Homo sapiens: one gene and its partners. The protein of the gene in region 4 purifies or fractionates together with the protein of the main gene of each other region. This does not show direct contact. Each region holds a gene or a part of one and is shown on either strand. Other genes may lie near its edges.

Evidence for each region.
Region 1: the proteins of ZNF777 (region 4) and NKTR purify together in Homo sapiens (affinity purification with mass spectrometry; one large-scale study listed by BioGRID and IntAct). This does not show direct contact.
Region 2: the proteins of ZNF777 (region 4) and PRKD1 purify together in Homo sapiens (affinity purification with mass spectrometry; one large-scale study listed by BioGRID and IntAct). This does not show direct contact.
Region 3: the proteins of ZNF777 (region 4) and RBM19 purify together in Homo sapiens (affinity purification with mass spectrometry; one large-scale study listed by BioGRID and IntAct). This does not show direct contact.

The regions. Positions count from the first base shown.
Region 1 is NC_000003.12:42,634,786-42,638,685, reverse strand, and holds part of NKTR (NK-tumor recognition protein), read right to left. Parts: intron 3,466-3,900; coding exon 3,320-3,465; intron 1,819-3,319; coding exon 1-1,818. UniProt on the Homo sapiens protein: PPIase that catalyzes the cis-trans isomerization of proline imidic peptide bonds in oligopeptides and may therefore assist protein folding. Component of a putative tumor-recognition complex involved in the function of NK cells.
Region 2 is NC_000014.9:29,921,348-29,925,247, forward strand, and holds part of PRKD1 (serine/threonine-protein kinase D1), read right to left. Parts: intron 1-3,900.
Region 3 is NC_000012.12:113,935,326-113,939,225, forward strand, and holds part of RBM19 (probable RNA-binding protein 19), read right to left. Parts: intron 1,812-3,900; coding exon 1,682-1,811; intron 1-1,681. UniProt on the Homo sapiens protein: Plays a role in embryo pre-implantation development.
Region 4 is NC_000007.14:149,433,533-149,437,434, forward strand, and holds part of ZNF777 (zinc finger protein 777), read right to left. Parts: intron 3,295-3,902; coding exon 3,043-3,294; intron 1-3,042. UniProt on the Homo sapiens protein: May be involved in transcriptional repression. Inhibits cell proliferation through CDKN1A/p21 induction by down-regulation of NIBAN1/FAM129A at low cell density.

The DNA of each region.
Region 1 (3,900 bases), on a different chromosome or scaffold from region 4:
TTCACTTTTTTGGTGTGTTCTCTTTTAAGATTTTCCTTTGACCCATGTTTGTGCTTTTGTGGCTTTCCCCTATTGTTTTCCGAATTGGAACAGGACCCCTCAGAGTCAGAAGTTGATGTGCGCTGTTTGCTTGATTTCCAAGCACCATTATCATCAGGCAGTGAAGTATTTGTGGACGACTTGGTTGTGGGTTTGACTTTGATGTGAATTTCACTAACCTCTGATTCAGAATCGGATGTGGCCTCACCTTCTTCCTTGTCAGAGGATGGATGGGAGTCATTTTTACTGTTTTTAGTGACATCTCGTTCTGAATTTGACTCAGAGTCCCATTTACTACCAGCATAATTCTTCCTTTTGGGCTTACTGCCATTTCTAAGGTGATCAGAAAGATTCTCTTTCAAAGTTCTTTTTTTTGAATGAGGGCATTCCCGTTCAGACTTGGATTTTTCTTCACCTCTGTTTTTTTCTTGTTTATTATGTGTTCTTTCCATTTGGCCCTGCTTCTCTTTTTCCTGGGCTGACTGTGTGGCCTGAACACTTGACTGCTCACTGTCTGAAGAATAATCTAAAGATGATCTGCTCTCGCTATACTTTCTCACACATGAAGACCTGTCTCTACCTTTGACATATTTACTGTGAAGTGTCTTTTCAGAGCTGCTGCTATGCTTTTTATGTGAAACGCTATTTTTTTTCCCACTGGATCTAAGTCTCCTCTTAGCTCGCCTTCCATCATCACTGCTAATAGAAGTATATGAAGATGATCTACTACACTGTGAATGATCACTGTATTTATTTCGTGAATGAGATCTAGATGATGGAGACCTAGACCTTGAATGTGAACTAGCTAGACTACGTGATCTTGTATATGATCTGGAATAAGATCTACTCCTAGAAGATCTGCTCCTTGACCTTGGTGAGCTTTCTGAACTTCTATCACTGTATTTTGAATAAGTGCTCTGATCACTTTCCGAATTTTTTTCTCTTTTATGGTAGGATGATGAGCTACCAGTCTCTTTAATATTTGCTAAACTGTAAGTGCTTTGGATGGGTAGCAAATGGGTTGTTTTAGCTTTCATTTCCTGAATTCGCTCATAAGAGGGCTTCCAAGGTTTCTGTCCAGGCTTCCATCTTGAAGGGGGGGGACTGTCACTCAGTGGTATTACAGGAATATTTTCTGCTACAACTGGTTGTACTACTACATTTTCATTTTGTGCCATGGTTGCTCTTAAAGGTTCTGTTTTAACTGGTTTATTTTCACTTAACTGAGAAGCTGTTTTTCTTGGTGATTTTGATGCTCTCTTTCGGTGCCCAGACTTGGAACTAGATCTGGACTTTGATCTACTTCGAGAATGTGATGAGGACTTTGACGCAGTCCTTGATCTTGAGCTTCCTCTAGAATAAGACTGTGAGTGAGATTTTGATCTGTATGAGTCTCTGCTGGAATGGGTTAAAGAGCTCTGGACATCCTTATCAGATTTAGACCAGTCTCTCTTTGATGAGTGATGAGATGACAATGAGGAAGAACGAGAACTCCTTTCTCTATCACAAGAGGATTTCATTCTTCGAGTGGAAGATTTTGAGGATTCTATGTCAGACGGTATAAGAATCCTTCTCTTCTTTGTTTGTTTGTGTCTTCTGCAGTGTTTCTGCTTTTTCCCTTTCTTTTTATGCTTAACCTTTTTTTCTTTTCTGCGTTTTTTATGGTGGCCAGAGTGTCTTGCTGTACTAAGGTCTGAATAATATCCATTATAGGACCATGATCTGGATCTCTGAGACAAGCTTCTTTCATCCCATCGGCTTGAACAGGGGTCACTTAACCTATAGAAAGGACATAATATTCATGCGGTGATTTATAAGCATGTTTTCTACACCTTAAGACACAGCTTTGTTAACAACAAAGTTCTTGACCCCATTAACACTTTAAGCACACGCAGGAAGCGTGAATCAGAGTTATAGGCCTGGTCTTGTTATACTTTCAGAGACACACACTAAGAACTACTAACAAATTCACTTACAAAAGGATTTTTTTTTTAAGCTAAGCAAAGAACCTTACATTTGTTAGGAAAATGTTTTTGAAAAGCAAACCAACTAATCACAAGAACACTGCTGAACTCAAATCACAAGAGTTCCTGGCTGTTATCTGCTCACAACCCTCTGCCTCTAGGACAGTTTTTGAGGGTGAGTCAAACCAAGGTCTCAAACAATTTGTTGATTTTCTGAAGATGCAGGATAGCTGCTTGAAACTAGCATGAAGCTTGTTTTTTCTCCACCTCAGACAGGTAATCCAGATTTCCCCTAAGACTGTAAACTACTTAAAACAGAAATTGAGGAAAAAGTACACAAAAACAGATACAGGTTACAATCTGAGTGTTAATGTCAAGGCTCAGAACTGAAAGTCCTCAGCACCACTGTGTCTGAGCCGCTTCTACACAGCAGATGCATTCCTTTTCCTCCTTTTCACAATTCCAAACCACTCTGCAGGATGTCCCCAGAGAAAAAGAGAATACTACCATGGAAGATTACACAGGGTCCCATTAGTATATTTTTCACTAGCTATTCTGGGGCCTATCCCCTTCCTAAAATAAATATTCAACTGTGGGACATCACTGAAGGTAAGAGATGTGTACACTTCTAAAAAAGCAAGTCTCTGCGATCAACAGTCAACATGAACACCGAGTGCAGGTTTTCCTATTTACCAATGAACTCATCAGTGACCTGGCTGGCTAGGAAAGAATCTGCTATATAATTTCTAAGTCCTAATTATTTTTTTTTTTTTTTGAGACGGAGTCTCGCTCTGTCACCCAGGCTGGAGTGCAGTGGCACGATCTCAGCTCACTGCAAGCTCCACCTCCCGGGTTCACACCATTCTCCTGCCTCAGCCTCTCTAAGTAGCTGGGACTACAGGCACCCGCCACCACGCCCGGCTAATTTTTTGTATTTTTAGTAGAGATGGGGTTTCACTGTGGTCCCAATCTCCTGACCTCGTGATCCGCCTGCCTCGGCCTCCCAAAGTGCTGGGATGACAAGCGTGAGCCACCACGCCCGGCCTCTAAGTCCTAATTATTTCTAAAATTGACTAAGAGGTCATTAAAAGACACAGGCTTATAGTTTTTGTTAAGGAAAACAGGATTTTGATTTAAAAGCCCAACTAGTTAACAGTACTACTTTCATCAAGTAGTCCCAAATGTATTTCCTTTGGTCACAGTCTGACTGTGAATCTTTCACTGAATCTTTAATGAAAAGTCCAGAATTGTATCCAATCCCTTTAACATTTAAAATATAACAGACACAGGATTGTGCTTATACTCAAAGTTCTTACTTATCTCCTTTACTCCATTTTTCTCCACTAGGTGGTCTATATGCTCTTAATCTCTGCATTTCCTCTTTCCAGTGAGGAGGAGTTTCACTGCTGTCATCATCATCTGACTCAGAACAGGATCTTGATCTTGGAGGTGTGTGATAGCGCTTTAAAAACAAAAACAATAGTATTTTAAAAAATGCCTCTCCACGACAGTCTGCTATGTGACAGAGTTAAGTAAAAGACCCAATCTCAGATCATCCCATCAAAGGTAATGATTGAAGTTACCAAAAGGATGGTCTAAAGTTCTTTTTTTTTTTTTTTTTTTTTAGTTTTTAACTTTTATTTTAGGTTCAGGTGAAGTTATTTCAAACAAGGCATTAAAAGAGATGGGCAAGGCTGAGATTCACCTGTAATCCACATAAAATTTTCCTTTTTAAAGTCTTAATGATTTCTCAGCATACTCACTGATGGTTTCACATGTTCCTCCTTTCATACTCAATTAAACCCATTCAAACACAGCAGTATACTTTGATCTAACAGCAATACCTTCCCATAACCATGGAAAATACAATTAGTTCCTTGAACAGATTTTGTATTAT
Region 2 (3,900 bases), on a different chromosome or scaffold from region 4:
TGCTTTTTTTAATATTATAATTTTAATTATATATTGATATAAGAATAAGATAATAAATATAAATTTCTTTTGTTAATAAGACAGTATGCTAGTCTATAGAGCTTTAAGCTTTAGTAAACAACAGCATTTATTATGCACGTATTTACAAAGCAGTATGTATGTTACATATATTGTCTTTAAATCTCAAAGTAATCTTAGATAAGTCACAAATATACATTCATTGACTTACAAATGTTCTGCATTCTCTAGTAAGGTCAGTAACAGTTATTCATGAATAAATTAGTGAAGACTTATATACAATCATCTCACAAAAAAAGGTAATAATCATTAGAAAATAAAGTTATAAATCTCCCATAAAAGCTATGATAGGAATCTGGTGAAAATAAACAGCACAGTCATGAAGTATGGTCTTCTGGGGCAAGTTTTTAAACCTTATTCCAGTAACCCCCACCACCACCACCACCATACACAGTGTACTTTTACTCTTTCAGATTGATCTCAATTCTGAATCTAAAGGCCCAAATGAATTCATGTATTTATCAAATGAGCCAATCATCCAACTCTTCCCAGCCCATGGACTACAAGGCTTAATGGTTTTAACTTCACAGTCTCACAGGATATTCTTGTGAAAACTGTCAAATAGTACATACCTGTTTTAAAAAGGTTTATAAGTCTGTGAATTGATAGAAAAATATAAAGCAGAGTTTCTCTTGGGAGGCCAAGGCGGGCGGATTACGAGGTCAGGAGATCGAGACCATCCTGGATAACACGGTGAAACCCCATCTCTACTAAAAATACAAAAAAATAGCAGTGCATGGTGGCAGGCGCCTGTAGTCCCAGCTACTTGGAAGGCTGAGGCAGGAGAATGCTGTGAACCCAGGAGGCAGAGTTTGCAGTGAGCCGAGATTGCACCACTGCACTCCAGCCTGGGCAACAGAGCGAGACTCCATCTCAAAAAAAAAAAAAAAGAAAAAGTAAAGAAAAAAAGAAAAATGTAAAGCAGAGTTTCTCTTTGGGATTGTGAGATATGTGATGAGGCCTCATTTTTTGCAGTCTATAACACAAAATATAAAACAATACTTCACATCTGGAGGCTATACAAGGATAAGGAAGCTCTTAAAAATATATTTAAAAAATAGTTAAACATAATCTACTACATATAAATTCCACATCTGTAATACATAATATACAGTTCCAAAATATAATCCTGTTACATTATTAAACTTGAAAAGAAATTTAAATTTTAAAAGTACAGGCAGGGCACAGTGGCTCATGCCTGCAATCCCAGCACTTTGGAAGGCTGAGGTGGGAGGATTGCTTGAGGCCAGGAAATCAATAACAGCCTGGGCAACACAGTGAGACATTGTCTGTATAAAAAAATTATAAAAATTAGTCAGATGTGGTGGCACACACTTGTAGTCCCAAACACTTGGGACGCTGTGGCAGGAGGATCACATTAGCCAAGACTTTGAGGCTGCAGTGAGCTATGATTATGTACTGTACTTGTAGTCTGGGCCTTATCTCAAAAAATAAAATAATAAAAATAAAATTAGAGTACTAAAATTATATTACTTAAGAATCACTTAATAGGCCAGGCCCAGTGGCTCACACCCAGTGGGATTCCTTAAATCCCAGCACTTTGGGAGGCCGAGGTAGGAGGACCTCTTGATCCCAGGAGTTCCAGACCAGCCTGGGCAATATGGCAAAATACCATCTCTACAAAAAATTTAAAAATTAGCCAGGCATGGTCACCCATACCTGTAGACCCAGCTACTCAAGGGGCTGAGGTGAGAGGATCACTTAAGCCTGGAGGCCAAGACTGCAGTGAGCTGTAATTGTGCTACTGCACTCCAGCCTGGGCAAGAGAGTGAGATTCTGTCAAAAAAAAAAAAAAAAAAACACACAGTAAAATGACAAATTCTATACTTCATCATTAAATCAGAAATCAGTAGACATATAATATAGCCAATTATAAAATTGGAATAAAAATATATACACCTAAGCCCCAAAGACCATCATTAGTTTAAAAGGAGTTTGTTGGTCCAGGTGAGTTGGATTGATCAAGCACCTAATTACTTTCGGCTTTCTCAATCTATGTGGAATGTGTGGAGTATCTAAAATTAGTAATAAAGAGAAAAATGACATCACAACTATTAAGAAAACAATGTATAATACAATTAAAGTGAAACAATTACAAGCAAAGTAATGCTACTTTCAAACCAAGGCACTAACCTTACTTCTTTAGTGAGCTATCTACTTAAAATCTCACTGTTAAATTTCTTTAGCCAAAAGATGATTCTGAAAAGTGAAACTATATGCCAGGAGTCTTATAAATGCTATTACTCCATTTAAGTACATTTAAGAGTAAAATATCAGTTGCCTTTCTAATAAGGTAATAACCAAAATGAACAATCATATTAATGGCATCAAGCATCCCTAAAGAGTAACACAGCTCATTTGAGGAAAAAAAAAAAAAAAAAAAAAGTATGTGTGTGTGTTTGTGTGTGTGGTAGATAAGTAGATGATGTACTATGAAACCAAACTAGCTCTTCCTCTGGAATTTTTTTCCTTGCTTTAAAACAATTCCTCCTCAGTCTACATATTCAAGGTTTCTTTGACAGTAGAAAGTAACAGTGTTTCAAAGTGAAGTCAATGATTGTTATTATTTTTTACCCTCCTGAAAACAATAACCATGTACACTAACAGAATACATATCTTTATATACAACCAGGCTTCAACGTCACACACTTGCAAACTAAATAAACAAACATAATGTAAATAAAACCCTGGATCAATACTTTCTAAAAAGAAAGAATAACATATTATATAGCCATACATTGTTACATACAAAAAAGCAAGACTAGATTTTTCACCTAAACTAGAAGATGAAAGAAATAATTCTTTACTTATATAAGTCAGTATATACTTAGGGTACGTTATCTTAAAATAAGTATTTTTTGTTGAATTACCATCACAATGTTTCAAGTACAATCGTGTCTGCTACATAATTAGAGAACAACTATACTCTAAATTCTAAATAATAACAATAATAATTTACAGGTGAGTTTCTCAGGGAAACTTATGCAGCCTTGTACACCTCAGTTGCTCATCCCAAAGGAAATGTCCTGTGATGTTACTGAAACTGTCAGCTAATATTTCCAATGCTCGTATGATCTATGTTAGTACTTAGGGAGCTCCTGAACAAAGTGAATGAAAAACTTCTTAACACATTTAAAACAACAGATGTGGAAGACTCAGAAAGATCAGGAGAACCTTCTGCTGTAAGTTCCACACGACTTCAGCCCACATAGTAAATTGTAAATGATTTCAAACCCTCTGCTCTCTCCTGAAACATCCAATCCCCAAACTCCTGTCATCCTTCCTCATAGCTGACGTCCTCATAAGGTACTTCCAAAAAAAAACTGAAATAAAAGACAAAAGAACTCCCTCCCACTTCCTTAACTCCACACTGACACTCTGCCATTCCTACTGTCACAACACACAGAGATCCTGTATCCTGTGATGGACCTTCAGCTCTCTTAATTTTGTTTCTGCTGGGATAATAATATATTCTGAAAGAGATGACAAATGACAGAGAAATTGAAAAAGTCCTCTGTCCAGAAACACTATCCAGTATATATTTATTTACAGTATTCTGTATATAAATAACCCTCAAGTTCACATCTATAAATCTAACCCCAACTTTTTTATAACCTAAAAAAAAAGTGAGATCTTTACCTTAACTATTCCAAACAGTCAAACTTTTCAAACTTCTTTGAGAGAGAGAAGAAACTACTAGAATAAATACAAAAGGAAAGGATTCCCCTTATAAATCAGTCACCAATCAGGGCTGATGATTTTCCCTTTCCAGTATTTCTCCCAGTCTCTCCCCCAAGTCTT
Region 3 (3,900 bases), on a different chromosome or scaffold from region 4:
TAGGTTCAAGGGTGGTAACTGAAGTAAAAATCAAGGCAGCTGTGATTTGGGGGAGACAGTTAAGAACAAGCCAGGATGACATGAAGAGAATTTTGTTTTGATGGGAACAGGCACAGGTTTTGAAGGAGACCCTGATCCAAACTGAGTGGAGAGAGCTTAACTCATAAACGAGCAGGAGTCGGGCTTTCACAAGGTTTACACCAATCATCATTAACCCCAACGATGTGGGATGCTTCTGGGTCCTCAGATCGCAAAGGGACTGAAGGATTTTGTTTCCTGATTGAAACAGGCCTCCAGACAGGCACTTCCTGAATGCCTTGCGCTGGCTGAGCCAGTCCTGAAGATACACAGTGAAACAAGGAAATGAGAAATGTGGACAAGGCAGGGGAGGTTAGGTACAGCAAAGTCTATTCCACTAAAATCTTAGACTGGGCGTGGTGGCTTATGCCTGTAATCCCAGCACTTTGGGAGGCTGAGGCAGGCAGATCACTTGAGGCCAGGAATTCCAGACCAGCCTGGCCAATATGGTGAAACCCCGTCTCTACCAAAAATACAAAAAAATTAGCCAGGCGTGGTGGTGGGCGCCTGTAGTCCCAGCTACTCGGGAGGCTGAGGCAGGAGAATTGCTTCAACCCAGGAGGCAGAGGTTGCAGTGAGCCAAGATCGCGCACTCCAGCCTGGGCAACAGAGCAAGGCTCTGTCTCAAAAAAACAAAACAAAACAAAACAAAAAAAACAACTCTTAAATCTGACAGTGTTCCTCCCCATTTTTTTTTAACTATGAAATGTCCTTTAAAAAAAAATGAGAACAAAGGAGAGAGTAGCTGAGGACTTATTATTATTTTTTTTAACATCCTTATTTTAATAAGTTAAACAACTGGTTGCTGTATTGTGGGTGTGTATAGGTGAGTGGTTATTACTGACAAGGAAAATCGTAACATCTGGATAGAATGACCATGGTCCTGTTGGTCTTGGCTTCTAAGATGTGGTCATGGTCCTTAGACTATGAGGTCCTCGATGCGGGGGATACACTGCCCGCTGTGGGCATCTAGGAATGCGTGGGGGTGTTCCAGGTTGTCACAAGGACTGGGGGCACTCGTGACACTCAGAGGCACAGGCCAGGGATGTGAAATGTCTTGTGATTTGCAAAGCAGTCCTGACAAGAAAGTACTGTCCAGTCCCAAAGCCCAATGATACCCCTTTTCCCAGCTAGGAAGCATTAGCCAGGGGGTGGGGGTTGCCCTATCTGGCCCCCAGGGGCCACGGCTTCCCCTTCCTTTCCTGTCTTTGCAGTCACTGGACATCAGAGGGCACTGCCACTCCAAGGACATGAGAATAAGTATCTCCCATACCAGCCACCCTCCTCCATGAGCCATTCTGGTCCATCTCTGAAACAGGAAGGTTGTTTATACTTGCTCTGCTTTGAATCCTTGTTAATAGATAGTAATTTTTTTCCCCTAAAAGCTTTAATTGACAAACTAAAAGCATATTGCATCCATAATTTTGACACTGTTTTTTACAGGACATGCCCATAAAATCTGAGAGTCTGAGCCCTGCTGGTCTCTAGCATGAACAAAGAGCTTTAAACCAGAGGCTTGATAAGAAACTTCACGCTGCCCCCAACCCTCCTCCTTTCCCTCACCAGGATCCCAAGCCATCCTGGTCTCAGACTCAGCTCTTACCTGTTTCTGGCTCTGCTGGGTCCTTTTCCATGGGTTCTGAAGGTGTGTCTTGGAGCTTTTTCTTCTGTGGGGCTGTGCTGGAGAAGACGCCAACTGGAGCCCACTCCAGATAGAGGGGGACATGATGGAACTGCAGAGACAAGAGTGATGGCCCTGTGGGTCTTCATTACAACACACTGCTGGGGAGGGACTCAGTCCCATGCAGATCACAGCCCAAGGGTCACAGAGGATGGGCAACTCACCCAAGAATGGAGCCGGAAGGAGCCCAGCCCAGAGCCCTGACTGCTGTCTACTCCCTGAGGACAACATTCGGCCCCCATGCTGCATCTCAGGGTGCAGGAGAGAGGCTTTAGTCTCTGTTGCCACCAGACATATGGCAGCTCCCAGGCCCCCTTTGTGTTTTTTCCAATCAGAGTATGAAACTCTAAAGTTTCATACTTTAGATGGGAGTGGGACGAGGAGCGACCACATCACTGGTAAAGTGCAGCTCTCCAGGAGGAAGTGTAAAATACCCGTTAAGAGAACACACTTTCTCTCTATGTGCATATATCCACGGGCAACACCTGTATACGTGTGCATATGTGTGCATGCAGATGTTATTTTTTTAAAAGGATAGCTGGGCATGGTGGCACACACCTGTAGTCCTAGCTACTCAGGAAGCTGAGGTGGGAGGATCCCTTGAGCTCAGGAGTTTGAGGCTGCAGTGAGCTAGGATTCTGCCACTGCACTCCAGGGAAATCCTGCCTCTTAAAAAAAAAAAAAAAAAAAAAAAGAGGGGCCCTGGGCAGGCGGGTGATAAACAAGACACTGATGACACCTGCCTCATTAGGCGGTTACTGGGGAGCTGCAGGACAGGGGTGGGAGTGAGACTTGTCAACAAATGCCCTTTTTGAATCTTTTCAAATTTCCTACTCCATGAAAGCCTTGCAAATCAGTTATTTTCAGAGAAATACACATGCTTCAGAGTGAAACAGATTGGTGTGCAGACAGCAGGCTGCATCACTACTTAGCTGTGTGATCGTGGGTCAGGGCACCTCTCTGGGCATCAGTTTCCATATGTGCAAAATGAAGACAGCAGTCTTCTTGTCGGTGAAACAGACACTGCCCAAAACAGGAGGCCTCACCTAGTCAGTGTTCTCCAACTGTGGCTCACACAGAGAGAGCTTTTGGTGACTGGCATGTCCTCCCAAAGCAGAAGGAAGAAAGGATGGTGTCACATTCCAAAGGATGCTCACATCTCAGTCATGGGGCCCCACCTAGATAATTTTTCTTATGGGTCAGGCGCAGACTGACTTCCTGAGAGCTTAGTGGCCACAGAGTCCCAAGCTAAAGACTATTACGGGGTTAAAGTGGCAGAGAATGAGAAATCATTTCCTCACCAGCAAAATGGGGACATGAATATCTATCTCTAAGAATTGCTGGGGGGCATATGAATACCTATCTCTAAGAATTGCTGGGGGGGACATGAATATCTATCTCTAAGAATTGCTGAGGGAGACCAAGGTCTGCGAAGTGCTAAAGTGTCTTATAAACAGAAAATACTTGTAGTGGCACCGCAAGGGTATGTCTATATCTTGAACCCCTAGAAACCTGTGAACGCGCCCTTATTTGGAAAAAGGATCTTTGCAAATTTCATTAAGTGAAAGATTTTGAGATGAGATCATCTTGCATTATCCCGGCAGAGCCTAAATCCAATGACAAGTGTCCTTATAAGAGAAACAGGGAGGAAGACTGAGAGAAGAGGAAAAGCCAAGTGAGGATGAAGGGAGAAACTGGAGTGATGCAGCCATGGGCCAGGGATGCCTGGAGCCACCAGAAGCTGGAAGAGACACAGATCAGACTCCCTAGAGCCTTCAGAGGAAGCACAACCCTGCTGACACCTTGATTTCAGACTGTGGCCTTCGGAACCGTGGGATGATCTATTTCTGTTGTTTCAAGCCAACTAGCTTGTAATAATTTGTTATGACAGCCACAGCCAGCAAACTAATACACAACTGTTGGCTTTTTTCTAAACCAAGAACCAGGAGACAGCCCCACCTACAGAACTGACTTTCATTCATCTCATTGTAGCTACAGGATTACAAAAGCATCAAGAATGCTCATTCTTGGGCAAAATAGGGAGACCTTTGTCTCTACAAAAAATCAAAAAATTAGCCAGGCGTGGTGGTGCATGCCTGTAGTCTCAGCTACATGGGAGGCTGAGGTGGGAGGATTGCTTG
Region 4 (3,902 bases):
TCCTCTTGGTGCCTTTCCTCACCTTCCTCCAGAAATTTCCCTCTCCTCTCCATGTCTGCCTTGGTGATCAAAACCTACAGCACTCCACCCCTCCTTGGAGCCCACAGTACTCACTGGTGCCCACCCCAGGGATCAGGAACCCAGCCTTTTGCAGCCTCTCATGGGTGGAAGATGCACCGGCACAGTCAGACTCGACCACCCTTGAATCTGGATCAGGTGCAGGCAGTGCATGCCCCACCCGGGGATGCCCCCTCAACTCTCTAGCCTGGTCCTTTATGATAATGTAAGTTTTAGAGAAAAGAAGTGGCTCCCGACTCCTGTTTGAGTTTTCTCAAGTGCCTTGTACTTATTTGGCACTAACTGGTGAGTTCTATTTTTAGTCACCAGCTTTGTGTGACATAAGAAAGTCACTTCTCTGGACCCATCTGTGACAGAAGACACAAAAATTCTGTGTTTGCAGAATAATTAAAAACCAACAAGACCTTTTCAGAGTACTCATACCTGTCCTTTTTTTTTCATGAGCACAGTATCTTATTATAGGACGAGTCAAGCAAGAATTCTCCCCATTTTACAGATGGGTCATCCAAGCCCAGAGATATCAAGTGATGTTTCCAAATAGAAAATGAAGTCCTAGGCCTTTCTAGAGTTTGCAGGTTGGGACCCACCTGGTCTACCTCCTCAAGTAACATGGACTGAAGCTAGCAATGTTTGTGACCCAGCCAACGTCTTGTAAGGTTGCTAGTGACTCCCTGTCCTTAGCACTTCCTTGGCCTCCTCTACAGCCAGTGAACTACAGTGGTAAAATTAGGACACAGGTGTGCTGAGTCAAGGCTGCCTCAGTAGTGTTAGGATTCTCAGCAAGAAGCGACCCAGAACATCCTTGGAGCGTGATGCCTAAAAGATCAAGGAGCAGGCAGCTGCAGAGTGTGGTAACTAGTTGCCCTGGTGTTTATCCTGAAAATACTGAGTATGTCTGAAAGGCAAAGGGGAAAATAGATCCTGAGAAGCACTAAACTCTCCTTGAGCATCAAAGGTGCTTATTTCTTTTTTTCTTTTAATTTATTTTTTGAGACTGAGTCTGGCTCTATCGCTCAGGCTGGAGTGCAGTGGCACGATCTCGGTTGACTGCAACCTCTGCCTCCTGGGTTCAAGCGATTCTCGTGCCTCAGCCTCCCGAGTAGCTGGGATTACAGGTGCCTGCTACCATGCCCAGCTAATTTTTATACTTTTAGTAGAGATGGGGTTTCACCACATTGGACAGGCTGCTCTCGAACTCCTAACCTCAAGTGATCCGATCCGCCTGCCCCAGCTTCCCAAACTGCTGGGATTATAGGCATGAGCCACCGCTCCTGGCCGAAGGTGCTTTTTTCTTCATGGAATGGTAAACGCCAAACATTTGGCCCTAAAACTCAAGACTCAAAACTCCACAAACTACTGTTTAGTAGTTTTCTAAAGTTCTACTACAATTAATGGGGACTGCTCAAAAGGCAATAGAGTTTATACGATGATGGTCCCAATTTAGCATATACTCAGAATTTACCTTATGTCTTTTCACTATTCTGTTATGAAAGACAGCATGGTATGTCAAAAACACTTCTGAAATACCATGGAGTTACTTAAAAATAAGGTGGTAGATCCATATATGTACATATTTTTGAGACAGTGTCTTGCTCTGTCACCCAGGCTGGAGTGCAGTGATACAATCATGGCTCACTGCAGCCTCAGCCTCTCAGCTTCAACCAATCCTCCCACCTCAGCCTCCCAAGGAGCTGAGACTACAGGCATGCGCCACCATTCCCGGCTAATTTTTAATTTTTTTGTAGAGATGGGGTCTTCCTATGTTGCCTGGGCTGGCCATGAACTCCTGGGCTCAAGCAATCCTCCTGCTTTTGCTTCCCAAAGTGCTGGGATTACAGGTGTGAGTCACTGCCCTGGGCCTAGATCCATATCTTTTGACCAACGAGATGGTCATTAATAAAATACCATGGGTATTTTATTAAGTGCAAAAAGGCAAATTATAGAGGAATTATCTACAGATAATTTTTAAACACTTTACATCAATATAATACTTTTAAAAACAGAAATGGATGTGGATCTATTTCTAAATATGAAAATACAATACAAACGTAATGGTGAATGACTCACACATAAACGAAACATCCAGACAAAAACAAAAGTCCATGTGGGTTCTACCAATTTTTCAAGGAACACACTCAATTCCTATTTTTTTTTCAGAATACAGAACAACAGCAAAAGCTGCCCAGTTCATCTGATATGTCCAGTATAATACTGTTTCCAAAATTAGATGAGAATAATTCAAGAAAAGGTTCATTTCATTTATGAATACAGTTGTCTAACTTGAGTAAAATATTTATTACCTAAGTCCAATAGTGAATTCAAAAAATACATCATGATGATCAAGTAGGGCTTTTCCCGGGCCTGCCAGGATGGCTCAGCATCAGAAAATCCATCACGAAAGATGTCCTGGGATCAGGCCACCGTGAGCCCCAGTGCCTTACTGTTCTTGAACTCAGAAGGAGCAAGAGTGAGCAGCATGGTGATAAAGTTTTATAATTAAACAAAAATGAAGACTAGGTTCGACCACAGAATGCCGGTGCTATTGTTATTTGAAAACCATGCTCTCCAGGGCTGAAATCTTCAAGGTAGTTGAGGCTTCTAGGGTGATATGAGATGATCAAGGACACGTTGGGAGAGTTCTAGCTTTGCCACTCTCTGTGTGGCCTTGCCCCATCTATTTAACCTCTGTCTGTAAAATGAGGGGTGGGATAGGTGAGCTCTGAGATCCCTTTGCCTGAACCAGTCTTTAGATGTAACCACTTCTTTCCTAGGTTGGAGACGGATTCTTACAAGTCCCGCGTCACGGAGCCTATACTCGAGGCCGTGCTTGGTAATTCTTTCCCACCTGTTGCCCCATCAGTGTCCAGCTACCTCTCTGAAGGAACCACAGCTTTCCCAGGGGGCAGGGGCCCTCTGGGAGGCCTCATGGCAACCCTTCCCCGGCCGTCCCCGCCCAGCACTCACCCGTGCAGTTCCTCTGCTGCACCAGCATCTGCTTCAGTTCGCTGAACTCGCTGGAGCCTTCCGTGGACTCCTCCAGCGTGTTCTCTGGCTCCTGCATGTCCAGGTCTGGCTGTTCCCCACAGGGGTCACCCAGCTCTGAGTCCTGGAAGCCGTGCTCTTCCACCTGTCCCATCAGGGGCTCAGGTGTCTCCAAACTTTCTGAGCCCTCGTCGTTGGTCTGTACCTCGATCTTAATCACGATCCCATCGTGCGCTGAGAGAGGGTGGGCAGGGGTGAGGAGGAGAAAAGAACCCAGAATGTTCATGCCAACTGCCCAGGTTTCTGCAGCCCTACAATTTACATCTCAATAAGTCTTATCTTAGAGACCCTGAAGAAATGTAATATTGAGTTGGAAATGAGTAGACACAGAATTTTCTGGACACCTTGTAGCTTTGAATACCAATACAAACTGTAGTCAAGTTAAAATAGATGCAAAGTTTGTTTTCCATGAGCTCCATAATTAAAAAAAAATATTCAGCATTGTCAGGGTTTATTTTTACTCTTATTTTTTCAATAGAGAAAGGTCTCACTCTGTCACCCAGGCTCGAGTGCTGTGGTGTGATCATAGCTCACTGCAGCCTTGAACTCCTGGGCTTACATGATCCTCCCATCTCAGCCTCCCAAAGTGCTGGGATGACAGGCATGAATGAGTCACTGCGCCCAGCCAGGGTTTATTTTAAAGAGATGCTCATTCCCTTTCTCAGTCAGACCAGCCAACCGGTACAGTTAACACAGTTTCTCTCTCATCTGCTCACTCACAATCAGGTCGATGAAGAAAAGGCTACCTCCTGACCACTCCCACCCTTCGGCCCCATACCCTG